3 separate regions of the Homo sapiens genome follow, and all the other regions are linked to region 1. The links come from fine-mapping of genetic effects on gene expression. A gene starts in region 1. Each other region holds a variant in brackets. All regions are shown on one strand. Distances are between the middles of the regions.

Region 1 (10,732 bases):
TATGCTTTTTTATACATGAATGGAAGCGTCTCCACATGATGGTTTATAATCTGCTATCTATGTTCAAGAATGCATTGAGGGCATCTTTTCATGTGAACATATTTAGATCTATATCTTTTTTTCAGAGTGCTTTAGAGGGAGGTATCTTATCTCTTGTGATGGGCATTTGGGTTGCATCGCTGATATCCTCTAAATCTCTACTTTCTAAGAGACCACTGCTTGAACTCCTCCAATGACAGGAAATTCATTAACTCTTGAGCCCATATGTTTTATTTCTAGACAACAGTATCTGGGGACTTCCACTCCCTAGAGCTAGAGGGCCTATTGCAGTAATAAGCCAGAGAGCTCATATTGAGTTAGTAATCAACTAACTTGCATGGGTGCCTCCATTTTGGGTCACTCCCACCCAGGCCTCTGAAGGTTTCCACCCATGTAAGTGTGGAACTATGCTAAATTGCCTTCTGATCTGTAGCCACAGTTTTGGTCATAGCTCCTGCCTATGGCAATACACGTTTCAACAGGTTACTTGGGGATTTCCAAGACTGTGGGTGCTTCTCCCTGACCTAACTTCTACATGGAAATATGGCAGTCTCCGACTGAGCAGAAAAACCAGTTTGGAAGACACTTATTCCCAGGTGACCTACTCAAAAGGAGGGAGCTCTCCCTGCCTTCCAGGGCAGGTCCAGACAAAGAGTGAAGCCATGTGCAATAGGACCAATAAAATCCACAGGGAGCAAAGCTGATATCCCAAAAATGTTGTTCTGAAGTGAGATCTCCATCTCTAAAAAAATAAAATAAAAAATTGTTCTGAAGTCTGTGGAGACCTGATCACCGAGAGACTGACTGATTTGCCTCACTTTTTCATTTCTTCACCATCTCTTTCTGACTCATCCTTTAGCTACAGTGTTGTTATTGAATATTAAATAGAAATTCACAGTAGATTGACATATGAATTGCAATTCGTTAAAAAAAAACAACTGTCCTGAATTATAAAACCACTTCTCTTGCTTGTCTCGTGAGGGATTAAATGGCCAAGAAAGCCACTTTTTAAAACTAAAATCTAATTTCCATAGAATTGGGACTTTAGAGCCATTCTCTTACAATCCCTTTATTTTAAAGACAAGCAGAGACCCAGCAAAGTTAAGTGACTGTCTCAAATTTACACAGCTTGTTAACGGCAAAGCCAGGACTTAATCCCAAAGACCTTATCTCATAAAGCATAAATTTCACTCCACTCCACTGACACTCTTTCATAGGAAACTGATTTATTTGTTTTGAATGCCACTGGGTGAGGGGGTAGAAAATAGTTCATTAACTATTTTATAGCAAGAACATAAAAAAAAGGAAAAAAAAAAGTTAAAAGAAGGCTAGAGAAAGAAAAAAAAAAATAAGAAACCAAACAGGCTCATGGAATTTGGCCCAACAGCATAGGGAACTCTGTAGACAATGTAGATCCACCCAGTTATCACAAATATGAGCAAAGGAGCTGAAATATTTATTCCTCCACACTGGCTAAAGGCTAGGGATGGAGGTGGAGGACATTAATTCTACACATTTCCAGCTGCCCTGTGCCCAGGCAAAGCAAATCCTGCAGCTGGAGCTGGTACTCTGAGAATATGATGTGGGTGCTGGCAGGAGGGAATGAAAGCACGCCTGGAACCAGTGTGCACGAAACTGGAAAAGGACTGGAGGGGGTATGGCCAAGCACTGGCAGCAAGTGCTGGAATTAGGCATGTACTTTAATATAAACTAGAGTAGAAGATTGATGCTTGCTTTTCAAACCCATGATTACATGCTTGGAGTTACTAACTGCCAGGGTAATATATGTACAAAATAACAAAAGTGAGTCAATAAGAAATATAAATAAAAAATAGGAATTACAGTTGTATGAAAATGGAATGTGAATCCTTTAAGTTTGGGAAACATCAGCAGAGTAGAAAGGACACTGGATCAAGGGCATCGATAAAAGCACAAAGTATTGGGTCAGCCAGCCAAGGTTTGAATCCTGGCTCTGCCAGTTTTGCTCTGTAAGACCTAACCTTCCTGTGACTACGTCCTTAGGTTGTTAGGAGGATTAAAAGGTTTAATATATGTAAAGCACTTAAAGCAACATCTGCTACGCAGAAAGTGCTGGTTAAGTATTAGCTCTTATCATTCCTGCCTTGCTATTAGGTTGATGCAAAAGTAATTGCGGTAATAACTTCTGTACTAACCTAATACTATCTCGATCAGTGCTTCTCAAACTATCTGTGATATTTTATTTTCAATCTGTTGCAGGCTGATGCCTTTCCACATAAAAGAAAAATGAAATAGACATAAAATACAAAGCTGCATTTTAAACGATTTAACAGACATAAAATTACTCTGTCAAATTGCTGTAAGTTTCTACATGCTCATCTTCAATTTCTATGCTCATCCCTTTGTAGATGGGTAACGGTTTGCAGACTGTCACTATTCCATGAACCACACTTTGAACAGCACTCAACTAGAAAAACCTTCGACAAGCCGCTTAAGTTACTGGTGGCAATATGTGGTGTTCCAGCTTCCAGGTTTTTTCAAGAGACTAATGAGAGAAAAGTAAGAGTAAGTACATGAAAGCACTTATTAAACTATAAAGTGTCCCAGGAAGGAAAATTAGTAGCATAGCTTAGAGGAGTCTATTCTGTGGTCTGTGGCCAAAAAATACAAACTCCAGTATGCCACCCTCTCAGTCCCTGTGGTGTCAAGCTGTTCTGTTTCAGGTGTATCATTTGAACTGTTAGTACTTGTGAATCAGTCAAGCATTTCCTAATGCTGAACAGAACAGGAAATAAAGACCCCTCTGGCAGTCTGTGGCTTGCATCCCACAAACCACCGCCATCCGCAGCTTGCTAAGACCACACTCCTGGGGCAAGGCATGCATTCATACACCTACTCTACCTGTGACACCTCTTCTACATGTGCAAATGATTTCACTAAACCTGAAACTTGCTTAGGGGTCAGAAGGAAAGCAAGAGGGAATATAATGCCCTGACTGCAGTCCCTAGTTCCCAGATTCCCCAGGGCCCACTTGTCCTCAGTTGGTGAAACTCAATACACAGACATCCCTCACCAATGCTTTCAGACTCCATTTCAAGTGTGGACTCTGCCCACACTGGTTCTAAGTGACCTACTTTGGCCTCACCTCTTTTCTCTCCACCCTGTCAAACAAGAAAGCGGCTACCTAGGAATACTCTAGAAGTCCGCTGAGTGGTTTTCTGAACATCCAGCTTCTTTACTCTTTCTGGACTCCAAGAAGGCAAGCCCCTTGTCTGATTCATCTTTGTACCTCTCCCATCACCTTTAGCATCGCAGTTGGTACACAGCGGGTGCTTGGTAATGTCTGTCGAATGGCCAAAGGAATAGTACAAAATCTGTGGAAGCGGAAATGGCTCCTCCATTTACCCGACCTTGAACCCTTCCAGAAAAGACCAACCAAATCCCATTAATTCATTAGGCAGAACTCTGCCAGGTACTGGACATTCGGAAACAAATTTCAGGGGGTCGGGGCAGATGGACGGGAAGCTCATGGTGGGTGGATGTACTACAAATTCTATAATCCGCAGTTATACCTCCACTTTCTGGGAAACTTCTCTCCGTGGCCCCAGGGCCCTTTAAATGTTACTATGCGTGTTTTCCTCCATAGTTTCTGGAACAGAACCAAACTTTCGTGTAGGGGTTTGGCAGCGCTCATCCTCACAGCCCTGGGGACCGCTGGCACAGGGGCAAGCGAGGCGTTCGCACGCGAAGGAAACTTGCGAGGAGTCAGGGCGGCCCCGCGCGGGGGCGGGTCGTAGAGTGGGGGCCCTCAAGTCCTAGAACTTCAGGTCCTCCATGAGAATTAGAGGAAGGGGGATGGCCAAAGACGACCAGACGTCCACCGAGCTTCCACAGGCCAGGCCTCGCCCCTCCTCCTGCGGGGCCACAACGCGGGCTCCCCGGCCCGGGACAGCACAGCCAGGGCGTCCGGGCGGGAGGCAGGGCCCGGCGCGGAGGAAGGAGCCCGGGGCCGCCGCCGCCCCGCCCACCCCAGCGAGGCGGAGCCGGCGCCCGGAGGAGCAAGAGGAGGAGGAGGAGGAGAGGTCGGAGCCGTCTCCAGGAGCCCTTAGAGACCGAGTCCCGGCGGCGACGGCGGGGCAGCGCACCGGCAGGCGGGTGAGTACCAAGCGGCGGGCGCGGGTGGTGAGTCGGGTCCCCGCGGGGTCGGGGCGCGGCGCGGGGCGTCGGCCAGCGAGTTCGGGGGCCGCCTCCGAGTCCCGGGTGCTGGGAAGCGAGATGGAGGGAGGGAGCGGAGGAAGGAAGGAAGGAGGGAAGAGTGTCCTGCTGGAGGGCGGGGACTGGTCTGGGCGCTGGGCGCCGGAGACCGGGGGGAGGGGGAGGAAGGGGCCAAGGGACACCGAGACCCAGAGGCAGAAACGGCGCGCGCGCCCTCGACGGGCGGCCGCCCGAGGTTGCGGGAAGCCGCCCCCACGGCTGTGGCTGGGGCTAGGGCTGGGGGTGGAAGGAAAGGTCTCCCCTTGAGCTCGCTTGCCTCCTCGCCAGCCTGCGGCCGTGCGCCCCGCGCCGGGTTGGGAGGCCCCCAGTGTTCCCAGCCGTGGCTTGTGGTGGTGTCAGGCGTTGGAGGAGGGCTGGCATGTGGGGGCGACAGGGACGCCACGCCCCTCTGCCTACTTTCTACCTCCCGGGACCAGCCGGCGGGAGCGCAGCCTTGGAATCCGCTGGGCGCTGGGGGTCTAGCAGGGAAATAGCGGGTCGCAGAGGGGAGAGCCCATATGACGCACCCCGCGAGGGACCCCCGAGTGGGGACCCGAGGCTGCTTTTCTGCAGACTGTATTTGCAAGTGGTAAGGGGGAGGTTGAGGCTTAGTCTTGGGTGATTTTTTTTTTTTTAATTATTGCCCCGACAGTTATCCCGTGGGGCAGGGTGAATTCTGTTTTTCATTTTAATTAGGGCATATCAATTAAAGCTAACTTTAAAACGCTGTCACTTAGCACCTCCCGTCACTCACTCGTCCCTCGCTTTGTGTGTCCTGTAAACTTGGCTTAAATCATTCATAACTCACGATAAGGAAGCCGTGATTCTTGTTCACGTCGCCGCAGTGGAGTGAAACTTTGCCCAACTGGGACTGAGTGGAGGCATTGCTGCGGCCGGTCATCTGGTGGTCATCCTGCCGGGCGTGGTTGTATACAAACAAGTGGGTCGAGAAGGAAATCTCTGAACACCAGAGGTAGAAGGGAGGTTCCTGCGCCCACGTGTCAGGGCGCGTTTAATGGCTGCTCCCAGCGGAAACAAACGGGAATTTATTAGACCGTGTGGAGTTGGACAAACTTCACATGATTAGCTTCCTTCCCATCAGTTACTTCCTCTCCCCCCTGCTGTCTTTGCCGACACAGTTTATATTTCCTGGGGCGGTTGTAGCTTCGCCTGAATAGGCTGTGTATAATGAATCTTTTGGATGTCGTCAGAGGCAGGGTCTGCGTCTGTGCCTTCTCTATTTTAAAAGCGGAGTTTGGCTTTGTTTTTAAAAGTGCTAGTCACCAGACTGCACCCTTGCCAGCGCTTCGCAGCTCTCGAAGTAAATTATCGCAGGATGGCGGCCCTCACCTAGGAGAACCAGGAAGGCAGGCAGCGCTAGAACGACGGGATTGAATTTTACTATTGCCAAAACAATCACATTCAAGTAAGGAGCTGTTTTGTTTTGTTTTTGTTTTTTTAACCAAATTATATATACTAGCAAGCCCCTTTTCTAGTAAACTAACGTTATTCACACACACAATTTTTAAAGTAATCAAAAATTTTACAGAGTCTTAAGTGATAAAAGGACTTTCAGATAAAATGTTCAGTCCCTTTGCCTTCTCTAATAGTTAACCAGCGCCGTAAAGCCCTGGTTTAAGTCCAAAAAATGCTGAAAAGTCTACTGCGTCGTTAGACCTTATAAATAATGCAGTCCTATTTTTGCTGTATTTAACTCATGTAATTTACTAGATATCGAACCCCCAACAGGGCACACAGCACTTAGATTTGTGTAGAAATATATGAAAATGTGAATCTGTGTTTCACAAGAGCCTGAAAAAAATAGAATTATAAAAATTTCCTGTCCAGAAAGCTCCAGTCTTACTTGAAAGCTCTCTAACAATTAGATTTGTGGATTTGTGTTGTCACTTGTTAGAGAATATCGGTGGTTTATTAAAGTGTGAGAGCAAAGGGCTTCATGGTCAGAAAACTTGAGGAAGTGGTTAGCCAATATCAAATTAGTTTTTTTTAAAATTAGAATTATGTGATTTATTGTGTTTTGCTTTGTTTTGGAGTTTTATGTCAGCTTAAGCTTAACCTAGGAAGGCAAGTTGTGAAAGCAAGTAAATTTTTCTGAGCCCTAACTTGGAAGAGAAGCTTGTTTAACAGTGATTTGGGGTGTTGGCTTTGGAGTCAGACAGACTTAGATGAAAATATTAGCTATTTAACCTTTTTCAGTCTGATTTATAAGATGGGGATAATAATGGTCTCTATCTGTAGGGCTTTACAGAAAGTATATGAAAACTTTGTCTTTGGAAAACACTTAAACTGGACTTAACACGCAGTACATGGTCAAAATTATTAGATATTTATCTAGCTTGTTCAAGCAGCAGGCTACTGGATAAATTGCAGGGTGGCAGCTTGAACCTTCCGGAAATGCTAGATAGAGCAATTTCAAATTCTACAGAAAGTAACTGGTGTGTGTGTGTTTGTGTGTGTGTATGTGTGATGTTTCTACCACAGCAATATGAATAATTATGATTAAAGGATTAATAGTTTTAATATGCTTTTAGTGCTAAAGTTACAGTTGCATAGTAATTTTGACAGTCAGAAACATTGCATTATCCTTTACATTTAAAGAGAATTTATATTTCAAATAGTTGTGTTTATTAGCCCTAGGTAAGAAATTAAGCCAGGAACAGAAGTATTCATCTTTAACCAAGTGTAATTCTTAATCAAAGTATGAAAACATGTGACCCAAGGGTATCCGGTTATTTACTTTTGCATGTGCTGATGTCCAAGGCCAACAGATAAGCCATAAGAAGTGTTAGGCTGATTGTGAGTCGTTGTTTTATTTGTAAACTTTCATGAGATTGGGTGTTCAGTTAATTCAGGAAATCTACTCATCACATTGTTGACTCATTTCCTAAAATCTAAAAAATTTTTTAAATGCCTTCATCTTGCCAGGCGCTGTGGCTCACACCTATAATCCCAGCACTTTGGGAGGCCAAGGTGGGCGGATCACCTGAGGTCGGGAGTTCAAGACCAGCCTGACCCACATGGAGAAACCCCATCTCTACTAAAAATACAAAATAAACCAGGCGTGATGGCGCATGCCTGAAGTCCCAGCTACTCGGGATGCTGAGGCAGGAGAATCACTTGAACCCAGGAGGCGGAGGTTGCGGTGAATCGAGATCGTGCCATTGCACTCCAGCCTGGGCAACAAGAGCAAAAACTCTGTCTCAAAAAAAAAAAAAAAAAAAGCCTCCATCTTTAAAACAAACCCTTTAAAGCTTCTTGTTTTTGTCCTAATGCACGTCAGGTGCACAGAATTGGGCTGAACCAGGATCTTAGCTCATGCCACAGATGATTTCTCATTTTACTAATTGCTCCACTGGGACACAGAGATGTGGTTTATAATAATTTTAAATAACTATAAAGGGTACAGTGTGATTATTAATTGTTTCTTGCCTATGACATTATGCTCTGAAACAACTGAAGCATTTGATTGAGTAAATTATTGATTCGTTTCACTCCTAGAACATAACATAATGATTTCTGGCTCATACTTCTAGGTGAGTAGACTGTGAGCAAGTTACTTAATCTATGCTTCAATAAGTGTTGTGAGGAATAAATGAGCTAATCTATGTATATAGCATTTGGAATAGTGCCTGGTGCATAGTCCACATTCAATAAATGTTAACATTAAATTATTGAAATTTTCTCTAAATGTTGTATAATGAGCATGCATTATTTTTGTAACAGGAAAACAGCTATACAAAATTTTAATATTTCCCCCAAATCTAAAAAAAGCTCAGTAATTTAAATAGTCCTGCCAAATAGTACTTAAAAAGTAAGAGAATTAGACAATCATCATTTTGTCTTTTAAATGTGAAATGGTTTGCAATATTAATTTGTTAAACAAGTTAATTCTTCCAAATCTCAATTCCATTTTCTTTTTTATTAGAGACTTTAAAAAATCAGTAATACATGAAGTCTGTTACAGTTTAAAATGGGGAAAAGCAGTATGCACAGTTACATTGTGTTATTACAATTACAGCTAGCTTAAAAATTATTTTTAAACCATAAGAAAAGCCTAGAAGAAAATACAGACAAATTGGTGATGGGATTATGGTGCTCTCCCACCCCCAACCTGCTTTTCCCCTATTTTCCACAATGCGCCTATATATATACTAAAATATAATTCATTTGTGTAATAGTTACTAAACAAATCTGGTTTATTAACTACAAATACTAAAAAAAATTTGCGTAATAGTTACTAAAAAACAAATCTGGCTTGTTAACTACAAATAGCAGGATTTTATTGTTGTTTTGGAAAAAGCACCAACTTTATGGCAGTTGAATGTCCTTCGGTTAAATGTCAAAACCTTTGCAGTGAGAATTGTTTAGCGGTAAAAGAGAAGGCCTTTCAGAAGCTTGTAGTTTGATCTTCATGAAGAATATTTGAAAAGTCTACCAGTGGGTTTTTAGGATCTGCATATAGACCTAGTCCACCAACCTTGACTTTATGGAAGTTGTGACTTCCCAGATCCAGGCCTGCCTTGATGAGCTGCGTTTTTACAGCACCTTCAGTATATCAGACACCTGGAAGACAGTAATGAGGCAGATATTGGTGCACTTAGTTTAACAGGAAGGTTGGATAGATAAAAACTAATTACAGCACAATTGTATATATTATATATCCTGAGCCCTTTCTAAACTCTTCCCGTATACAGTCTTGCTCAGTTGTCACAACAGCCCAGAGGAGGAAGCTGAGGTTCCTTAAAGGTCTGAACCTTGCTCAAGTTGCAAGGACAGAATTTGACCCAGAAGCATCTTAACTCCACATCTCATGCCCTCTGCACGGAGATGGAGGTGCATCCAGCCAGAGGTGAGAGTGAAGTGGGCTTTATGGAGTCAGTTTTGCTTAAAAACTATAAAACTAATCAAGAGAAACATGAGGAGGAGACTCCTTTTAGGTGACCTTCCTGAGGAGAATCATCAGTGCCTCTCCATCAGGCTTGCCACTCTTTAGCCATAGCAGTTAACACTTCCAAATGGCTGCTGAGACCCAGCAGGCCTGAAGCGCACACAAAGGCCCAGTCCTTGGTGACCCTGTGAAGCCTACCTCTTTCATCCCTGGACTTCCAAAGGGGGTCTGGATAGTACAGATGAAGGAACTGACTCGCTAAATCCTGTTCTAGAACCAGCACATACCCACAGATCCTGACCTCCCCACTTTCCTCCCTTAGGAATGACAGGAGAGTAGTTAACAGGTAGCATGGATCCAGGGCAGATGGTGGAGGTGACTTGACTTAAGATAACTTGTAGCTAGATTATTCCATTTATTGGAGAGTCTCTCTTGAAAATCATATCTGATGTCACTTAAGTGTTTGGTTTATCATGTTAGTCTTTATTGGGTGTCGTAAAAGTGCTCAGTTGTGAAGTGTCTGGTTACCATCCTGTGACAAGGAGGGTTTTTGTCTTCTTTTAATGGGTCTGCATTTCAGAGAATTACTGTATAATAAAAACTGGAGTGTTGGCTGGGTGCAGTCGCTCACGCCTGTAATCCCAGCACTTTGGGAGGCCGAGGCGGGTGGATCACAAGGTCAGGAGAGCGAGACCATCCTGGCTAACATGATGAAACCCCGTCTCTACTAAAAATACAAAAAATTAGCCGGGCGTGGTGGCGGTCGCCTGTAGTCCCAGCTACTTGGAAGGCTGAGGCAGGAAAATGGCGTGAACCTGGGAGGCAGAGCTTGCAGTGAGCCGAGATCGTGCCACTGTACTCAAGCCTGGGCAACAGAGCAAGATGCCATCTTAAAAAAATAAAAAAAAAAACTGGAGTGTTGGAGACTGTTAAGAATTAATACTTTCAGTTCTGCCAGAGGGTTAGTATCTAGAAGTTCTAAGAGATTGGTTGCTAAAATCTTCTGTAATTTTCAGTTTCATTGATTGTATAATAAGTGGGTGACTTTGGGCCCAGAGAGTCAGAAGGCTTTGTATTCTGTATGCTTTCTGACACAGTAGGCCACCACTCCCCTTGCAGGCAAGGTCATGTAATTGACATAGGATCCCCTTTAGTTGACCGAAGAGAGAAGTATAAGCTCTGGTTGAACTTGAGTTTGCGTGATCACACATGCTCACTGGAGTGAAGTCTGAATCAGTTGCCATCTCTGCACTTGCATTGTGTGTAGAGAATTGTCTTGATTCAGAATGGCTTTGTGCAAACTCACATGAGCCCATTGGAGGCAGAATCTTAACTTCATTGATGTGAAATAATCAGGCTTTTATTTAGCTTCAGATGGCACTAGCCAAGACGTCCTTGACCACTGGACACTAAACCCTTAACTCCCCACTGGGACCCTTTGACTCAGACCCCAAGCTTGCAGTTACCTCAAATTTTGTGTTGTTTTGGGGGGATAAATTATTGCAGAGGAAAAACATAAGGTTTTTTCTCAAATGAAGACTCAAACTGAAA
Region 2 (10,732 bases), 420 kb before region 1:
TATACTGTACTGAAAGTGAAAAAACCAAATTGCTGAATGGGTATTTGAAATAGGGTTTCCACTGTATGCGTATTGCTTTCATGCCATTGTAAAGTCAAAAAATTGTAAGTGGAACCATGTAAGTCAGGGACTGTCTGTACTTGTAATGTTGCCAACAACAGTACTGTCTATTTGGCATCAATTCTTTCCCCACCTCCAGAAACCAACCCCCACACCCAAGGTGGTAATATCCTCAGTGATACCAACTTACTTCTCCCCAAAAGACTGGCTTCCTCAGTCAAGGTTACTAGCTAGAAAATGTTAAAGATGGGGCACGGAGGCTGGGCGCGGTGGCTCAGGTCTGTAATCCCTGCACTTTGGGAGGCTGAAGTGGGTGGAAACCTGAGGTCAGGAGTTCAAGACCAGCCTGGCCAACATGGCGAAACCCCGTCTCTACTGAAAATACAACAAATTAGCCAAGCATGGTGGCGGGCGCCTGTAATCCCAGCTACTAGGGAGGCTGGGGCAAGAAAATCGCTTGAACCCAGGAGGCGGAGGTTGCAGTGAGCAGAGATTGTGCCATTGCACTCCATCCTGGGCAACAAGAGTGAAATGCCATCTCAAAAGAAAAAAAAAGAAAAGATCAGGCACGGTGGCTCACACCTGTAATCCCAGCACTTTGGGAGGCTGAGGCAGGTGGATTGCTTGAGGTCAGGAGTTTGAGACCATCCTGGCCAACATGGTGAAACCTCGTCTCAACTGAAAATACAAAAAACAGCCAGGCGTGGTGGTGCACACCTGTAGTCCCAGCTACACAGGAGGCTGAGGCAGGAGAATCGCTTGAACCCAGGAGGCAGAGGTTGCAATGAGCCGAGACTGCACCACTGCACTCCAGCCTGGGCGACAGAGCAAGACTTTGTCTCAAAAAAAAAAAAAAAAAAAAGGGTGCAAGGGTGCAGTGGCTCATGCCTGTAATCCCAGCACTTTGGAAGGCCGAGGCAGGAGGATCACCAGGTTAGGAGATCGAGACCATCCTGGCTAACACAGTGAAGCCCTGTCTCTACTGAAAATACAAAAAAATTAGCCGGGCTAATATATAGTGTCTTTTGATTATACACTTGACTCAAAAGTGTTTGAAGAAATAATTTGTGAATTGGTATATTAGTTTCCTGTTTTGGTTTTTGAAACATTTAAGGTAGTGACTAATACAACTAAGATTTCTCAGCTTTTTCTTTTCATTTCTTTTTTTATTTTTTTCAGAGATAGGGTCTTGCTCTGTCACCCAGGCTGGAGTGCATTGGTGCAATCACAGCTTGCTGCAACCTCCACCTCCCCAGCTCATACAATCCCCCCACCTCAGCCTCCTGAGTAGCTGGGACTACAGGCAAGTGTAACCATGCCTGGTTAATCTTTGTATGTTCTGTAGAGACGGGGTTTCGCCATATTGCCCAAGCTGGTCTCAAACTCCTGAGTTCAAGGGATCTGTCTGCCTCAGCCTCCCAAAGTGTTAGGATTGCAGGCATAAGCCACCCTACCTGGAGCTGATTTCTCAGCTTTTTCAACCAGACATTAGAAACACTACCCATTTCCTGGACTCTGATAATTTTTTTTCCATTAAGCAACACGAAGAAAAGACAGCATGGGGAAACCAGTAAATTCAGAAATTACTTCCCTATCCTATGTGCATATAGACATCAGACATATAGACATATAGAAGCCAAAGTATGAAGAAAAGAAATTCATAAAGTTCAGTCATTTCTATCATAATTGAATCAAAACAATAATTTTTAAGCCACTATCTTGTCAAAGCTTAGGCATAACTTAATGAATAAAGAATAAAGTTTACTCCAATCTGCCACATTATTCTATTGATATTTTTCCATAACGCACTGAAATATTCACTTATATTTTTAATGTGACATTGTAATTGATTGCTTTCTTTTTACTTCAAAAAAATTTTTGATTCTCACACTTACAACTAAAATTGGTATTACTTTTTAAATTAGAAAGCATACCTCAACATAATTAAAGGCTTTTTATGGAAAAATAAAGGCTTTTTATTGGAAAGGAAGAAGTCAAATTATCCTTGTTTGCAGATGATATAAACTTTTATTTGGAAAAAAATATAAATACTCCATCAAAAAGCTGTTAGAACAGATAAATTTAGTACAGTTGCAAGATACAAAATCAATATACAAAAATAAGCAGCATTTCTATACATTAACAGTAATCAATCTGAAAAAAAATCAAGAAAGTAATCTTATTTACAATACTACAACAAAACCCCATAGGAATAAATTTAACCAAAGAAGTAAAATATCTTTAATAGAAAAACTATAAAACACCGATGAAAGAAATGGAAGAGACCACACAGAAAAATGGAAAGATACCGCATGTTCATGGATTAGAAGGTGTAATATTATTAAAATATCCAGGCCTGGCATGGTGGCTTACGCCTGTAATCCCAGCACTTTGGGAGGCCGAGGCGGGTGGATCACCTGAGGTCAGGAGTTCGAGACCAGCCTGGCCAACATGGCGAAACCCTGTCTCTACTAAAAATACACAAAATTAGCTGGGTGTGGTGGTGGGTGCCTGAAATCCCAGCTACTTGGGAGGCTGAGGCAGGAGAATTGCTTGAACCTGGGAGGTGGAGGTTGCAGTGAGCAGAGATTGTGCCACTGCACTCCAGCCTGGGCGACAGAGCGAGACTCTGTCTCAAAAAAATAAATAAAATAAAATAAAATAAAATATCCATACTGCCCAAAGCAATCTACAGATTCAGTGCCATCCCTATCAAAATACCAGCAACAATTCTTCACAGATATAGAAAAACAATCCTAAAATTCATATGGAAATAACAAAAGATCCCCAATAGCTAAAGCAATCCTGAGCAAAATAAACAAAGTTGGAGGCGTCGCACTATCTAATTTCTAATTGTGCTATAAAGCTATAGTAACCAAAGCAGCATAGAATTGGCATTAAAACAGACACATAGACCAATATAACAGAATAGAGAATCCAGAAATAAATCCACACTTACAGTTAACTCATTTTCAACAAAGGCACCAAGGACATACATTCAGGAAAAGATAGTCTCTTTAATAAATGGTGTGCAGAGAACTAGACATCCATATACAGAAGAATAAAATTAGATTCCCATCTTCTACCATATACAAAAATCAACACAAAATAGACTAAAAACATAAATGTAAGACCTGAAACTACAAAAGTACTAGAAGAAAACATTGGGGAAACAATATAGAACATTGATCTGTACAAAGATATTTTGGGTAAGACCTCAAAAGCATAGGTAACAAAAGCAAAAATAGACAAATGGGATTACATCAAGCCAAAATGCTCTGCACAGCAAAGGAAACAATTGACAAAGTGAGGAGAAACCTACAGAATGGGAGAAAATACTTGCATACTACCCATCCAACAAGGAATTAACAAGAATATATAAGGGACTCAAACAACTCAATAGCAAAAAAACAAATAATCAAATAATCCAATTTAAAAGTGACCTAAATAGACATTTCAAAAGACCTAAATAGACTTTTCTCAAAAGAAAGCATACAAATTACCAATGGGTATATGAAAAAATGCTCAACATCACTAATCATCAGAGAAAATGCAAATCAAAAACACAATGAGATATAATATCATCCCAGTTAAAATGGCTATTATTAAAAAGACAAAAAATAACAAATCTTTATGAGGATTCCACAAAAGAGAACAGCTGTACACTATTGTTGGGAATGTAAAGTAGCACAGCCATTATGGAAAATGGTATGAAGGTTTGTCAAAGAATTAAGAATAAAACTATCATATTGTCCAGCAATCCCAAGGCGAGGTATATATCCAAAAGAAAGGAAACCAGTATATTGCACAGATATCTGCATTCCCATGTGTATTTCAGCACTATTCACAATAGCCAAGATATGGAATCAACCTAAGTGTCCATTATTGAATGAGTGGATATAGAAAATGTTACATATACACAATGGAATATTAGCCATAAAAAAGAAGAGTCCTATTTGCAACAACATGGCTGGAGGTCATCATGTTAAATGAAATAAGCCAGGCACATACACACAAATATCACATATTCTCACTCATATACAGGAGCTAAAATAATGGATTTCAAGGAGGTTGAGAGTAGAATGGTGCTGACCAAGGGCCTGTAAGGAAACCAGTGGAGATGAAGAGAAGTTGGTTAATAAGCACCAAAATACTGTTAGGTAGAAGGAATAGGTTATGGTATTTGATATACAGTAGGGAAATTATAGTTAATAATCAGTATTGTATATTTCAAAATAGGTAGATGGGAAGAATTGTAATGTTTCAAATAAAAAGAGAAGATAAATATTTGAGGTGGTGGACACCCCGTTTGCCCTGATTGATAATTACACATTACATATGTGTATCAAAATATCACATGTACCCCAAGATATGTATAACTACGATACCTCAATAAAAAGTACCAAAAATTTTAGACAGCATGTTTACAAAGGAGATGTGGTGTACATACTGTATATTATGTAACATCCCCAGCAGAGTCTGAGGTAGCATTTTAAAATCTAAAGCATTGTATCAGCTAGCTATTACCTCAATAATTCATCATAACAAAACACTCCAAAACTCGATGGCTTACAAAAGCAACCATGTTTTTCTTATTTCATAGCTCTGTGGGGATGCTGTTCTGTATTTCTTCTCATTCTTTCAGGATCACTGATTCCCTGGGGCAGGCCTTCTCATGGTGAATAATGGGAAGGCCAAAGACCCAAAAAACTCAAATCTCATCAGCACATTTAATGCCTCTGCTCTCATCAGCTCCCCTCACATTCCATTGGCCAAAGCCAGTCATATGACTAAGTCCAGCTGTAGCAGGACCAGCCGCAGGCAAAACTCCTCAGACACCGAGTTAAAGAAAGAAGGGGTTTATTCGGCCAGGGGCATCAGCAAGACTCCTGTCTCAAGAGCTGAGCTCCCCAAGCGAGCAATTCCTGTCCCTTTTAAGGGCTCACAACTCTAAGGGGGTGTGCGTGAGAGGGTCATGATTGATTGAGCAAGCAGGGGGTATGTGACTGGGGGCTGCATGCACCGGTAATTAGATTGGAACAAAACAGGATAGGGATTTTCACAGTGCTTTTCTGTACAATGTCTGTAATCTATAGATAACGTAACCAATTAGGTCAGGGGTCAATTTATAACTACCAGGCCCAGGGTGTGGCACCAGGCTGTCTGCTTGCAGATTTCATTTCTGCCTTTAGTTTTTACTTTTTCTTTCTTTGGAGGCAGAAATTGGGCATAAGACAATATGAGAGGTGGTTTCCTCCCTTACAACGTTAGGGAAATATATTTCTTCCCATGAGGGAGAAGGTAGGTGAAGTGTTGCTATAAAATACTCAAATTAATATACTAACATTTCTTCAGTAAAACATATGAATATCTCTGCATTCAGTGGGATAAATACAAATTATAAATAACCCCAAGATAGTTTGGTTTTCAGAACCTTTTGGATTTTATATTTGAGATGAAAATCTCCATCAAGCCCTTGTGATCCTTCCTCTCTTGTCCTTTTACTCTGTAATTCCTACTCCTGAGACCAAGGGCTTCAGTAAGGATGGCGTTCCCTCTGCTTAAGGCCGCCAAAAGCTACTGTTGCTACATGTCTCCTAATGTCCTTCAAGGCATATATGTCATACACTTCTTTTGTTACCCTCACAGAACCTAACAGAAGCTCCGGATCCATAGGAAACCCATAAGAGAAATGCTTATTCAATTGGATTATAACATCAGTGAAGCCTGTAGACCCAATGCAAGCCAAGCATGAAAAGGTGTGAGGATGCCAAGGCTTAAGGACATTTTCTGTCATTCAGTTCTTGCATCTCATCCACTCCTACTCCATAAGTGTTCTCTTCTTAAAGAATATCTTAACAGTTTGCAGCTGTGTTAATCAAACTTCCCATTGTCTCTTTATTACATAACTCACACTTTCACATTTTTAAACAAAATGAGATAGTTACTTTGACTTCAACAATAGTCTCCTAAAATAAAGGGGGGAAGAGTTGGCATTAGAGTTATACTAACATCTAAGGCCAAGTAATTAGTGACTCCACTATTTTTCTATTCCCTTAACTATCTGAGAATCATGTATCTAAGAAGATTTGAAGTACGGCTGTGGATTTGTGTTTAAAGTGGAACATTGCCCAATAACAGTGCTGTCTACTATATATTTTTCCCTAACTCTTCTGGCCTAAAGTGTAATTAAAATAGAGAGCTATTACAACCGAATGGTTATTACTTGTTTCATATTACAGTAGGTTGGTTGATGTCTTCTTCAGAAATAAATAACTCAACTTCACCTGGAGGACTTTTCCGATGTCCCAATGTGATCCTTGAGTGACGAAATCATGGTTTCTTAAGTTTTGGAAGGAA[G/A]ATGAAATAAACCCAAAGATTATGAAAGAAGAACAATAGAAAATTGCTGAATCACCAGCAACTGAACCAAACAAAAGAGTTTAAATAAATAATTTATTTTTAAACCTACATCATAAAAAATGACAAATCAAAGATAAATAAATCAATAGAAGCTTTGTAGGTCTCAAAGGAGATTTCTGGGCATATTTCTGGGACTTTATAAGTTGACGCAAATTCTCTATCACTTTTTAAAATTAGCTGGTTTATTTTATTACAGCAGCAATAAGGTTCAAAATTTTAAAATAAACAAAATAAGAAAGCATAAATTAAAACATCAAATTTCCCTACCTTCTATCTTTTCCTTCTCTGTAACCACGGACGTAACCTCTGGTAACATTTTCTTCCATTTATAGCCATTGAGAATATTTCACTTTCAGTGTTTATATTAATTTGCTCAGGCTGCCATAACAAAATACCTCAGTCTGGGTGGCTTAAACAGCAGAAATTTATTTTCTCACAGTTCTGGAGGCTAATAGTCCAAGGTCAAGATGTCAGCAGGTTGAGTTTCTTCTGAGACCTCTCTCCTTGGCTTGCAGTTGGCTGCCTTATTTCTAAGCCCTCACATTGATTTTCTCTGTTTGCTCACATCCTTGGTGTGCCTCCAGTGTCTTAATCTCCTCTTCTTTACAAGGACACCAGTTGGATTGGATAAGGACCCACACTAACAGTCTCATCTTAATTTAACAACCTCTTTAAAAGCTTTATTTCCACATACAGTCACATTTTCAGGTGCGGAGAGTGAGGGTTTTCACATACAAATTTTAGGAAAAGACTGCTCAGCCCATAACACTATCTTAAAAAGCAAAGCAATGCTACAGCAAAATGATGAAATTCCTGTAGACATATCTTTGAACACTTTTGCAGGCATATGGGTAAGATAAATTTCAATTTGGGGGTCAAAGAGTATGCTCAGCAATAATTTGGATAGATGTTGATAAATTTCCTACAAAAGGTTTGTAATAATTTATTCTATCAACAATATATAGACCTGCATAGTTCCCTTCAGCTTTGGGCTTACATAACCTTTTAATATTCTTAATTGGATAAAAAAATACACTTTGTTCTTCAGTTTATGTATTTTAAAATATTATATGGTTAAGTATCTTTTCAGGTGTGAATTGCGCACTCATATTTTTTCCATAAACTCCTTTGCCCACTTTTTTTCTATTGGGTTATATATCTTTGTTTCTGTTTTTGTTTTGGAGACAGGGTTTCACTCTGCCACCCAGATAGAGTGCAATGGTGCAATCATGGCTCACTGTAGCTTCAGACTTCGAAGCTCAAACGGTCCTCCTGCTTCAGCCTCCCCAGTACCTCAGACTACAGGTACATGCCACCACTCCCAGTTAATTTTTGAATTTTTCTTTTGTAGAGGCCATAGGGTCTGGCTATGTTGACCAGGCTGGTTTCAAACTCCTGGCCTCAAGGAATGCTCCAGCCTCAGCCTCTCAAAGTGCTGGGATTACAGGTTTGAGCCACCATGCTCAGCCTTACCTTTTATTTACTTATTTGGAAGAATTTTTTTTATATTAAGGTGCCTTGTCGTATTTGTTGCAAATATTTTTTCCCAATATGTGCTTGTCTTCTATTTGACCTTTTTTCACGGCAGAGTGTTAAAATTGATAGAAATTGAAAATGTTAAGATTAAAATGTAGATATTAATCTTTTTCTTTTGGCTTGAGGACTTTGAAATAAGTTTAGAAAGGCATTTCCTATACCAAGTTTATGTTTGGATTAGTATTATTCATGTTCTTGCTTATTATTTTGGGATTTCTTTTATTCACATCTTAATAGAGAAGAAGGAAGGGTAAAATCCAGGTTTATGTTTTTCAAATGTTCAATCAGTATTACCAACATTATTTATTTAATAATTTATATTTTTCTCATTTATTAAAAATGTGACTTTTATCATTTTATTATTAAACTCAGATAATTACTCCAGATTATTTATGGATTTGTTCATCTATCTCATTGATCTTTTTTGTTTATTTGTGGTCAGAAAGAAAGTTCAGATACTTTAAAGCAACACTTTATCTGATGTACTCAACCCACCTCATGATTCTTCTCTTTTCAAATATTTTCCTACGTGTTTATTTTGTCATATAAATTTTAGCATCATTTCATTCAAATTTCAAAAATCTTCAAAAAACTTTGTTTATATTTTTGATAGGAATTGCTTTATAGTTTAGATTAATTCAAAAATAACTCTTTCAAAATATTGATTCATCAGATGGAAACCATCATTCTCAGCAAATTATCACAAGAACAGAAAATCAAACACCGCATGTTCTCACTCATAAGTGGGAGTTGAACAAGGAGAACACATGGACACAAGGGAAGGGAACACCACACATCCAGACATCTGGGCCTGTTGGGGGGTGGGGGGCTAGGGGAGGGATAGCATTAGAAGAAATGCCTAACGTAGATGACGGGTTGATAGGTGCAGCAAACCACCATAGCACGTGTATACCTATGTAACAAAACTGCACATTTTGCACGTGTACCCCAGAACTTAAAGTAAAAAAAAAAATTGTATGCAGAGAAGTAACATAGGAACATAAACTTTAGAAAAATGTTACTAATCAGATAACTTTGAATAAACCACTTAATCCCACTAAAAAATAGATAGGTAGGTAGGTAGATAGACAGATATAGATAGATAGATGATAGATATAGATAGATAGATAGATAGATAGATAGATAGATGATAGATAGATAGATAGATAGATAGATAGATAGATAGATAGATTCATCTATCCAAACAAAAGATGTCTTTTCATTTAACTCATTTTTAAAAATTTTGACTCAGTGAAATTTTAAATTTTCATGCTTTCTTATTAGATTCATTCCTAGAATAGTTATTGTGAATGAGATATTCTTCTCCATTCTACTTTCTAGCAGATAATCATTATTCTAAAGTAAAGTACTGGACTTTTTTTTTTTTTTTTTTTTTGAGATGGAGTCTCACTCAGTCGCCCAGGCTGGAGTGCAGTGGCGCAATCTTGGCTCACTGCAACCTCCACCTCCCAGGTTCAAGCAATTCTCCTGTCTCAGTCCCCCAAGTAACCAGGACTACAGGTGCGCACCACCACGCCCGGCTAATTTTTTGTAGTTTTAGTAGAGGTGGGGTTTCACCATGTTGGCCTGGCTGGTCTCAAACTCCTGACCTCACATGATCCACCTGCCTCAGTCTCCCAAAGTGCTGGGATTACAGGCATGAGGCACCACATCCAGCCAAGTAATTGACTTTTAATTATTGTGATTAGCTTTATTATTGCTTGAATTATTTTTATTTGAATTTTTAGATTTATAATTGTATCAATCACACATAATTCTAAGTTTGTTTCCTTCTTGTTTCTCTTTTTATTCTCTTCTTCAGTTGCAATGGCTAGCATCTCCAAAATAAATATCAAATAATAATGGTGATTTCAATTCTAGATTGTACTAGAGAAATTCACCAATACAATAAAGCAAGCAAACAAAATGAAAGCTATAAAGTTTGGAAACAGAAGTAAAATTATTATTGTTCATATATGACATGATTGTTTATGTAAAAAAATTGAAAAAATCTACAAACAAATTATAAGAATACATTTATTTTGTAAGGTCAGTGGATAGAAGGTTGATATAGAAAATCAATTTTATTTATATGTACTACACAACTAGAAAATAAAAAAAATTTAATACTTTTTATAATAGCACTGGAATTTTCTGTGTTTGGGTATAAAAGTAATAAAAGTAGTACAATATCTCTTCCTTAAAAATAATAAAATATAGGCTGGGTGCAGCATCTCATGACTGTAATTCCAGCACTTTGGGAGGCTGAGGCAGGAGTATCACTTGAGGTCAGAATTTCGAGACCAGCCTGGGCAACACAGCCAGACCCCACCTCAAAAAAAATAATATATATATATTTTTTAAGTTAGCTGGGAGTGGTGGCTCATACCTGAATTCCTAGCTACAGGGTAGGCTTAGGCAAGGTAATCACCTGAGCCCAGGAGATTGTGACTGCAGAGAGCTATGATTGTGCCACTTCACTCCAGCCTGGGTGACAGAGTGAGACCTTGTCTCAAAAAAGAAAAGATAAAATATGGCCAAGAAAAATTTCTAAAAGACCCTTTTAAATCAAATGGAAGAAATCACATGTTTATTGATTGTAAGCTCAATAAACTTGCAATCTTGATGCCTGTTCCTGAAAAACACCATTAAAAAAAAAAACAAAAACGGAAAAGACAGATCACAGACCAAGAGATGATATTTTCAATACAAATCT
Region 3 (10,732 bases), 440 kb before region 1:
GCACCAGCACAGTTTCTTAGAATATAGAAAAGGCTCAATAAACATTTCCCGAATAGTGGGCAAGTGAATGAAAGAATGAAGTTCTCTACCTGTGCAAGTCTTATGTGTCACATGGAGACCCCTCCTCTGGATTCTCAGGGTCATGAGAGCAGCCTGACACTGGGTCTGGCCATCCAGAAGCACTTAAAAAGTGATAGATAATAGTGTAATTAGTTACTACCATCTATAATTACTATTTAGTGGGTGGTTCCAAAATATTTAACATATTTATTTTTACTTTTAGAGTAAATGGGTTGGGGGGTGGGGCGGGCAATGGAGAGAGAGAACACTTTCAGGCCATGATGAAAACCATGTGAGGCACTCCACAGCTGTTTTTCAGACCTCTGCAGGAGCACCATGCATTGCCTCCTTCTCTCAGCCAAATTCCAAGATCTAAGGGTTACCCCCCAGGAGGGAACATGCCATTCCCAGCAGAGTCCATTATCTCTTGCAACCTGTTATCTAAACAGATTGTCTCCTTGGCTCCATTAGATGAGCAGATAAGCATACCTGAAGCTCCTGGGGCGCTCTGCCATTTACATAAGATCCCAGTGCCTTGGGCCACTGCCTAGTGCCTAAGGAACCCAAAGGTTGTCTCTCTCAGAACTCAAGACTTTCACTCCTTTGCCTCCTAGGCATTTGCCAGTCACAGAATTCTCCACTACCAGGCCTCTTGGCAAACCAAGTGTCCAGACCAGTCTGATTCCCCAGGTTTAATCCTAAACCAGTAGCTTGCGTCTTCCTTTGCTGAGACCTACTTTGAAAGCCAAAAGGACTGAGTTGTCTGCAAATAATTCCAATGCCACCATGAGATTTGGGGTTTATTTTATTTTATTAGAAACAGGCTTTTGTTATGTCATCCAAGCTGACATGGAACTCCTGGGCTCAAGTGATCCTCCCACATCAGCCTCCTGAGTAGCTGGAACTACAGGTGCATGTCATCACACCTCGCTTTTAGGATTTGTTTTTAATAGAAGTGAGTTATCCATTAGCATTTGTGAGACATATCTGGAACGTCACCTCAAGTATGAAGACTGACTTAACTCACTCCAGCTACCTGGATTTTCATTTTGAAAAACTAATGTCTAGGCCTGGAGCTACAGTTTTGCTCCCAGTTCAAAAATGTCTGGCATATAATAGGTGCATAAGAAATGTTGTTCCAATTAATGGAGAAAATGTCAGTTTGGCCTTCATCTGAATGAAACATTTACCTTGTTTGGGTAGAGAGTTATGAATCTGGAGATGGCTGGTCCCTCAGTCTACCCGTTCAGAAAGAACATCACTCAGTAAATCATACCAGGCAGTCAGTCGGCACTTTCAAAAACTGTGCTTCATTATGGTAGGACTGGGAGTATAGAAGGAACAAAGGGAGTGTGTGTGTGTGTGTGTGTGTGTGTGTAAATATATATATATATAACTTGCATAATTTTAAATTTTATACAATAAAGATAGAGCATACATATGACAAAATACTAACATGAATGAACCCTTCATGTTATGGAAATATATACTACGTCTGTTCTTTTCTATATTCTGTATTTTTTGTTGTTGTTCATAAGAGACAGGGTCTTGCTCTGTCACCAACTAGAGTGCAGTGGTGTGATTATATCTCACTATAACCTCGAACCCCTGGACTCAAGGGATTCCTTGAGGCTGGGATCACCTTAGCGTCCCCAGATGCTGGAATTACAGGAGTGAGCTGCCGCCCCAACCATATATTCTATTTCTAGCTACTCTATATTTCTATTTCTGAAAATTGTCAATTTTTTTTTTTTTTGTCATTGTTGTTGTTGTTGTTTAAGATGGAATCTCACTCTGTCGCCCAGGCTGGAGTGCATTGGTGCGATCTTGGCTCACTGTAGCCTCCACCTCCCAGGTTCAAGTGATTCTTCTGCCTCAGCCTCCTGAGTAGCTGGAAATACAGATGTGCACCACCATGCCCAGCTAATCTTTGTATTTCTTTAGTAGAATCGGGGTTTCACCATGTTGGCCAGGCTCAAACTCCTGACCTCAAGTGATCCTACCACCTGGGCCTCCCAAAGTGCTGAGATTACAATCATGAGCCCCCGCACCCTGCCCAAAGTTTTTTGTTTTTTTTTTTTAACTATGTTGCAAGGATTTGATCACCTAGAGAATGTGGATTAAAGGGAACCAGAGCTCTTTCACAAAGGCAGAATGTCTTCTGCTCCTATCTTTTTGAAAATGTACACTTAGTCCTACATCCCTCACAACAACATGAAGTGTTCAATATTACACTAGTCATTTTGCAGATGAAAAAAAATGAGGCATTGAGACATTAATTAACCAGCTCAAGATGATACAGATCTATCTGACTGAACTGGGCTTCAAAACAAGCAGCCTGTCTTCAGAACTCTCCCCTTTAATCATTGTCATAATGAACCAGAACCATCTGTAACAGAGAATGGAGCAGCAAGAATAGCTATCTTCTGCCTCTTTTCTGGAGCCAAAAACTGATCTGGAGAACTTCACACTCTTTCTAAGGCCATGTTATCTCAACCTTTTTCCCCGCTTTTATCCCTACTCTCTGCCTATTAAGTAGACTTTTTAGATCTTTTCTGATCATTCCCTCCCCACGAAATTTTAATACCACATATATGCCTTATATCTGTTTACGTATGATGAGGGGCCACAAAACATTTTTATATTTAAGATTTTTTTTAACCTTCCTAATAACCAACTTTCACCTCCGTGGCGGCAACATTGTCCCCCATTAAGAATGTGTGTTCTGAGGAAACCAATATTGAAGATTTCTGTAAGATCTTTTATGTTGCCATTGTTTATCCATATGTCACAAATACATGGTGTGAAACAAAAATCTCCCACATAGACTCCCACAGGAAATACAGTAATGGGAGAATTTCGGTTCTTTCTCCCTGGCTTCCGAGGTTGTGTCTCAGGAGCAACTGCTGGGGTGTTCATGAGGGGATGGAGAGTGAGTAACACCACAGTAATTGCCTCAGAGCTGGAGACTCCTGTTGTCCTTATTATACAGAGCCAGTTTCCAATTACATGTGCTAATGAGGTCCAGCAGTAAGATGGGTAATTGCAATCCACAAGAACTCCCAAACCTCATTTAGAAAGCTGTTTCAAGCATCTCTTGAGCCTGTGAACCAGACTAGGATAACTATTCCTCTTCTTCTTGAACCTGTAAGAACCAGACTGGGATGACTGTTGATTTTCCATTGTTTCCAGCCTCAAACAGAGAAGGAATAACGATCGGGCCTTGTTCACCTTGCATGTTTTTACTCAGGGCATTCCGTGAACCAAGCACTTTGTTGACCCCATTCACAGAGATGTCTAGTATGTACCCATAGGCTGCATATGTGGTAGGTATCGTCCTTTCTATTTTGAAGATGTGAAACTGACTGATGCAAAGTGTTACCAGTAGGAAGTAGCACAGTCAGGGTTCAAAATCTGGTGGTTCTAATTCCAGGTACATTCCTTCATGGTATCTTCAAAGCCTTATGAAAAAACTGGAAAGACCTGGAAAATGTTCAATTCAATTGAATTCAGTGCAATTTGAATTGTTAATCAATTTAAATGTTCATCATTTGAGCTTTAAAGGTAGGCAAACTGGTTTTTTTTCTTTCTAACTATATGTCCATAAGAAATTTCCTTAATGGCCCTTGCATGTTATTCAAAATTCTAATTAGTAAAACTGTATCGTCATGAAGATTAAATGAGGTAATGTTATCAAGCACCTACTATATCATCTGCATCAAAATATCCTGTTTCCTACTCCATTCATCGGTTTGGTCCTTGTATCATTTTGTATCATTTCTTTGTTTTTTCCCCTTGTGGCCTTATTGTTTCCTGACATTTTAAAATATCTATCTGGCCTTCAGAGCTGAATTGTAAGAACTTCAGGATCAGGAGCTGTTCTCATAAAGATGGTTCTCAAATTTCGAAATTTTTATCTTTTTTTTTTTTTTTTTTTTTTGAGATGGAGTCTCGCTCTATTGCCCAGGCTGGAGTGCAGTGGCACAATATCGATTCACTGCAACCTCTGCCTCCTGAGTTCAAATGATTCTCCTGCCTCAGCCTCCTGAGTAGCTGGGATTGCAGGCACCCACCACCACATCCAACTAAGTTTTGTAATTTTAGTAGAGACGGGGTTTCACCATGTTGGTCAGGCTGGTCTAGAACTCCTGACCTCGTGATTCGCCTGCCTCGGCCTCCCAAAGTGCTAGGATTACAGGCGTGAGCCACTGTGCCCTGCTTCAAATTTGTATTTTTTTAATGTGTGAAATCTTATACATTGCACATTGACACTCAAAGTACTAAATTAATATCAGCTTCCACACATCACCCAATGAGCATGAATTTGAACTCTCAACTAGTGGTGCCTTCGGCCAGGATTCCTAGGTTCAATTCGGATGGCATCATTATCTTTATGCAGCAATTTTTGCTTGTTCTATTATTTGAATAGCTAATCGCATTTGCCCTTCTAATATGTGAAAAGCCATAACAAAAAAGTGATTGTGACATAATAAAAGATATCCCCTAAATGGCAGATCTACATCTCAAATAGATTATTATTGGACTTAAGCTGATATTTGTGTTCAACTGTGAAGAGTAAGAATAAAATTAAGGGCCATGCATGAAGCATTGGAAGTCTGTCTTTTCAGGGTCAGCCTAAGAGGAGAGGAGTAGTGGTGGGGACATGAAGAACACTTTAGAATTTTAATTGTGAATCTGCATAAAAATCATTGACAGAGAAGTTCAAGGGTTTAAAGAGACATAGCCAAGGGTAAAGCTCACACAGATTTCTCAATTAAGTAGAGATTGGCAGAGTTGAATTTTTCTTTAACAAAAATATTTTTAAAAACTAATACCGGCAGGGCGCAGTGGCTCACGCCTCTAATCCCAGCTCTTTGGGAGGCTGAGGCGAGCGGATCACAAGGTCAGGAGTTCGAGACCAGCCTGGCCAATATGGTGAAACCCCATCTCTACTAAAAAAATACAAAAAACTAGCCGGGCGTGGTGGCGGGCGCCTGTAGTCCCAGCTACTCGGGAGGCTGAGGCAGGAGAATGGCGTGAACCCGGGAGTCCGATCTTGCAGTGAGCCGAGATCGCACCACTGCACTCCAGCCTGGGAGACAGAGCGAGACTCCGTCTCAAAAAACAAACAAACAAACAAACAAACAAAAAAACCATGAAATCATTTCATAATACCATGAAATCATCACTATAAGTTCCTGCTCAATCTCTGCACAACAACATTAGCAAATTCTTCTTCCCACAGTAAAATGATTTGGTTGTTTTGTTTACTAAATGTCACTTTTAGGAAGTAAGTTCTGCAAGGGCAGGAATATCTGTTTTGTTCAGAGATGTGTTCTAAGCACACAGATCAGCACCT[G/T]GCATGGAGTAATCGCTGAATAAGTATTTACTGAATGGAATTCAAGTAAACTGAAGTTTAAATAAGATATTACTTTGTAAAATTATCTGTTATACATCTGATGAGAGGTTAATATTCAAAATATATAAGAAACTCAAACAACTCAATAGTAAGAAAACAATCTAATACAAAAATGGGTAGATGGTTTGAATAGGTATTTCTCAAAATAAGACACATAAGTGGCCAACAGGTATATGAAAAAGATGTTCAGGATCACTAATCAACAGAGAAATGCAAATTAAGACCATAGTGAGAGATATCACCTCGCAGCTATCAGAATGGCTATTATTGCAAAGATGAAAGATAACATGTTGGCAAGGATGTGGAAAAAAGGCAACCCTTATACACTGTTTGTGGAAATGTAAATTAGAACATCCATTATGAAAAAAAAATATGGAGGTTCCTCAAAAAATTGAAAATAGAACCCATGATATGATTCAGCAATCTCACTACTGGGTATATATCTGAAGGAAATGAAATCAGTATGTGCAATAGAAGAGACAGCTGCACTTCCACATTCATTGAAGCACTATTCACAACAGCCAAGATATGGAATCAACCCAAGTGTCCAGCAATGAATGAATGAATAAAGAAAATGTGGTATATGTACACAATGGAATACTATTTGGTCTTTAAAAGGAAGGAAATTGTGTCATTTGTGACAACATGAATGAGCCTGAAAGACATTATGTTAAGTGAAATAAGCCAGGCACAGAAAGATACATACCACATGATCTCACATGTGGAATCTAAAGAAGTTGGACTCAGAGAAGTAGAGAGTAGAATGGTGGTTACCAGGGGCTAGAGAGTGTAGGGGGCTTAGGAAAATGTTGATCAAAAGACGCAAAATTTCAGTTAGGTAAGTTCAAATTAGTTAAAATAAGTTCAACAGCTCTATTGTACAACATGGTGACTATACCTAATTAAAAAGGTATGTAACTATTTGCTGCCGGGTGTGGTGGCTCACGCCTGTAAACCCAACACTTTGGGAGGCTGAGTCAGGCAGATCATGAGGTCAGGAGTTCAAGACCAGCCTGGCTAACATAGTGAAACTCCATCTCTACTAAAAGTACAAAAAATTAGCCGAGTGTGGTGACAGGTGCCTGTAATCCCAGCTACTCAGGAGGCTGAGGCAGGAGAAATGCTTGAACCTGGGAGGTGGAGGTTGCAGTGAGCCGAGATAGTGCCACTGCACTCCAGCCTGGGTGACAGAGCAAGACTCTGTCTCAAAAAAAAAAAAATTATTTGCTATATTCAATTTTTTTCTCTGTTTAATAATTATGTGATCCTTCTATAACCTAGGAGTTTAAGAAAATCTAAAATAGATAATATGATTAGGATTTTATTATTTAGCTCTCACAGGTTCAGAAAAGCTGAGTACCAAGTTAGGCTCTGTCATGCGTTAGGCATGTAACCTTGATCAAGTCACTAAACCTCCCTGAGCCTGATTTAAGATAGATAAATAGTAACATATTTATGTAACAAACCACATATTTATCTTTGTATCTGTACTGCAGAATTAGGACAGTTTATAAGAATACCTACAATAAACTAAAGTAAATAAATTGCATACAGAAATATGTAAATACATATAAGTTCCAAGAAAAATACAGGTTGAGTGGGAAAACAAGACTAAGTAAAAGGGCTCCGTTTCTTTTTCAGTTCTTAAGATACAACCTTAGAGATTAATGTGAGAATCAAATGATTTAATAGGATGCTGTTTGATAAAGAGTTCATTGACCATGATGCACAGAGAGGCTGTATAAAGAGAAACAAGCCCAGCCATACCTCACATTCCAGCCACCCCCATTGGAGCCCCAGACGTGTGAGTGAAGTCACCATAGACTCTCCAGCCCAGGTGAGTCACCCTGTCCAGCACCACACAGCAGGGATAAGCTGCCACCACCATGCTCTGCCCAAATTGGAGAATTATGGGCAAAAATATGGCTGTTTTAAACCACTACCTTTTGGGTTAGCTTTTTATACAGTAATAGATAAACAGTTTGGTTTCATTTCTTGGTCTCAATAGCAGCAACTTTCGTCTCCTGTCTGGAGCAACTCCCTCTTTATTTCACCAATTATCACTCCACTATCTGTCCTTTTGCATCCATGGATTTTGAAGGAAGGTCAGTGGTATTGTGTGGAAAAGGCTTTGGCCTTTGACTGATACCTCCAAAAAAATTATCATGTGTGAATACTAAACAAAAATAATATTTAAAGCTGCAAATTGTTTGGCAATACAAAAATAGAAATCTGAGCCTTCTATTGACCAAAAATCAGAAATTGGATGTCACAGTGGCTTGTTTGCATTAGGCCAGAAGGAAGAAAAATGATATTAGTCATTCCCAGTGAGCAACAGTGAGAGATTGGCACGTGCACATGAAATGCAATCTCGCTTCCCATAGAAAGTGATTAAAAAGATTAACACACACACAAACACACCTTTTGTATTCCCAATTTTAATATATTGTACAACAAATACGTTAATATCAAGGAAAAGAAAGTAAGCCACAAGCTTTTCACCAAAATGTAACTACAGTCATGTATTGCTTAATGATGGGGATACCGTCTGAGAAATGCATCCTTGGGCAATTTTGCTGTTATTCAAACATCATAGAGGGAACTTACACAGAACTAGATGGTATAGCCTGCTAACACCTCAGGTATAAGGTATAGTCTATTGCTCCTAGGTTATGAACCTGTACAGCATGTTAGTATATTGAATACTGCAGGCAATTGTAACACAATGGTAAATGTTTGTGTATCTAAACATAGGAAAACTGTAAAATAGGAAAATACAGTAAAAATAAAATATCATATAACACACCTATATAAGGCATTTATTATGAATGAAACTTGCAGGACTGGAAGTTGCCGTGGGTAAGTTGGTGAGTGAGTAGTGAATAAATGTGAAAGTCTAGGACATTTCTGTACACTATTGTATACTTTACAAACGCTACACTTAGACTACACTAAATTTGTTTTAAAATATTTTTCTTTCATTAATAATAAATTAACCTTGGCTCACTGTAACTTATCTACTTTATAAATTCAATTTTTTTAACATTGTGACTCTTCTGTAATAACATATCTTAAAACATACATTTTGCAGCTGTTCACAAATATTTTATTTTTTTATCTTTATTCTGTAAGCTTTTTTTCTACTTTTATCATTTTTTTTTAACTTTTTTACATTTTAGTTAAAAACTAAGCACAAAAACACACATTACCTAGGCCTACATAGGGGCAGGATCATCAATATCACTATCTTCCACCACTGCATCCTGTCCCACTAAAAGGTCTTCAGGGTCAATAATACACCTGGAGCTCTCATCTGTGATAATAGTGCCTTCTTTTGGAGTACCTCCTAAAGGCCTGCCTAAGACCATCTTTCAGTTAACTTTTTATTTTTATAAATAGAAGGAGTACACTCTAATATAATGATAAAAATATAGTACAGTAAATACGTAAACCAGTAAGTTTATTATTATTATCAAAGTATTATATACCGCACATCATTGTATGTGCTGCACATAATCATATGTGCTCTACAACTGGCAGCACAATAGGTTTGTTTGCAACCAGCATCACCACACACGTGTGAGTAATGTGTTTTGCTCCAATGTTATGATGCCTACAATGTCACTAGGCGAATAGGAATTTTTTAGCTCCATTTTAATTTTATGGAACCACCATCCTATAGGCAGTCTGTCATTGACCAAAATGACATTATGCAGTGCAAGACTGTATTTTTATCTTGCCAAGTTCCTTTTCGATCCCTTTCCAAGTGCATTAACTGTGAATCCTTATTTTTAGCTGATTAATTATCTAACTCCTCTTTCACAGGCACAAGAACCAATGTGAACCCAAAGCAATGAGGAAGGAAGGCAGGAAAGGGAAAATAAGGGAGTGTTCCTTGTTGCCCTGGAGGCTTGGAGGAAAGCTGCTTAATTCTCAATTTATTTTTCTCCATTTATTCAGTCAATAAATGTTACTACAAAATTTTTAAGTACTTTTCATTTCTTAAAATTCTTCAGCTGTGTAATTACTTGTTCATTGATCTTCTGCCCAGTTAGACTGTAAGCTATGCGTGAGGCCAGAGGCCAGATCTGTTTTTTCTCGTTTTTTTTTTTTTTTTTTGGTTGCAGTGTTGCAGTGAGCCAAGATCATGCCCAGGCTGGAGTGCAGTGGTGCAGTCTCGGTTCACTGCAACCTCCACCTCCCGGGTTCAAGCAATTCCTGTGCTTCAGCCCCCCAAGTAGCTGGGATTACAGGCATGCGTCACCACACCCAGCTAATTTTTGTATTTTTAGTAGAGATGGGTTTCACTATGTTGGCCAGGCTGGTCTCGAACTCCTGACCTCAGGTGATCCGCCTGCCTCAGCCTCCCAAAGTGCTGGGATTACAGGAGTGAACCACCATGACTGGCCTCAGATCTGTTTTTTCTTAATCACTACTGTATATCTAGCGTCTAACCTAATGCCTAGCACAATGCCTTAAGAGGCATTTAGTAAATGTTTGTTGGTTTGAAGTATGGGAATTGCAAGTCCAGAGGACACATTTACCAAACTAGGAATGGAAAGGAAGAAGTAAGGAGAAAATGGTTGTTAAATAGTGGGTGAGAGTCTATACATTAAAAGGAGAGCGTGCATGCTCTAATGTACTTTATAATAAATGTGGTCTATTTGATTAATGCTGCCAGCTCAAATTTGGGTCTTCTGGAAAAAAAAAATGATGAAACCATCTCCGGAGACATTTTGTATTCAGTTCATTTAATATTTATACTGAGTTTCTTAAGTCAGCATCCTCAAGGAGACCAAAAATGATGGTTGGAATATGGAGAGTAATGCTCAGGAGGATGGGGTAAGAGCACTCCCCACTCACCCAGTCCTAGATAAATCAACATAGCCTGAGTTAAATTTAGGTACTTCTCTAAAGGGTGGAGGGACTACTCCAGAATAGTCCAAAAGGAAATAACATTCTTTCTCATCTCTTTCTCCACAAGACTCTAGCAGAGCTTTAAAAAGTAGGTTTCTTATTACAAGGAATAAAAACTATATAAATTAGAATAGAGATCAAAAAGAGACCCCAAAATTCAATGATTTAGTAAGATAGAATTTCACTGTGCTTTCCCATAACAGTCTATAGGTGGGCAGACCAGGCTAGTAGATAGCTCTGCTCAACAAAATAATTAATAGACCTAGATTCCTTCCATTTTGTTGTTCCATTATACCCTATTAAGGCAGTATTTCTCAAATGTTAACATGAATTTAA

Alleles and levels. Positions count from the first base shown, and alleles are read on the strand shown. Sizes are in standard deviations (SD) of each study's normalised expression. Not every link is listed here.
For the expression in whole blood of the gene that starts at base 5,229 in region 1, T is the high allele of the variant in region 3 and G is the other (small effect, 0.35 SD a copy in GTEx).

What was found. PIP is the estimated chance that this variant, and not a neighbour inherited with it, causes the effect.
Region 2: its variant is fine-mapped to the expression of GNG12-AS1 in whole blood (GTEx, PIP 0.94).
Region 3: its variant is fine-mapped to the expression of GNG12-AS1 in whole blood (GTEx, PIP above 0.99).

The regions. Positions count from the first base shown.
Region 1 is chr1:67,826,785-67,837,516 of GRCh38, reverse strand. It overlaps GNG12-AS1 (GNG12, DIRAS3 and WLS antisense RNA 1), which reads right to left and starts at 5,229. Exons shown (of 10, transcript NR_040077.1): 1 at 5,081-5,229. It overlaps GNG12 (G protein subunit gamma 12), which reads left to right and starts at 4,050. Exons shown (of 4, transcript NM_018841.6): 1 at 4,050-4,173.
Region 2 is chr1:68,251,147-68,261,878 of GRCh38, reverse strand. No RefSeq gene overlaps it. Among named protein-coding and RNA genes, the nearest start is that of WLS, 24 kb to the right of the region's middle. The variant G/A (reference allele first, on the strand shown) is at 6,421.
Region 3 is chr1:68,266,388-68,277,119 of GRCh38, reverse strand. No RefSeq gene overlaps it. Among named protein-coding and RNA genes, the nearest start is that of WLS, 39 kb to the right of the region's middle. RefSeq lists an enhancer at 152-779. The variant G/T (reference allele first, on the strand shown) is at 5,420.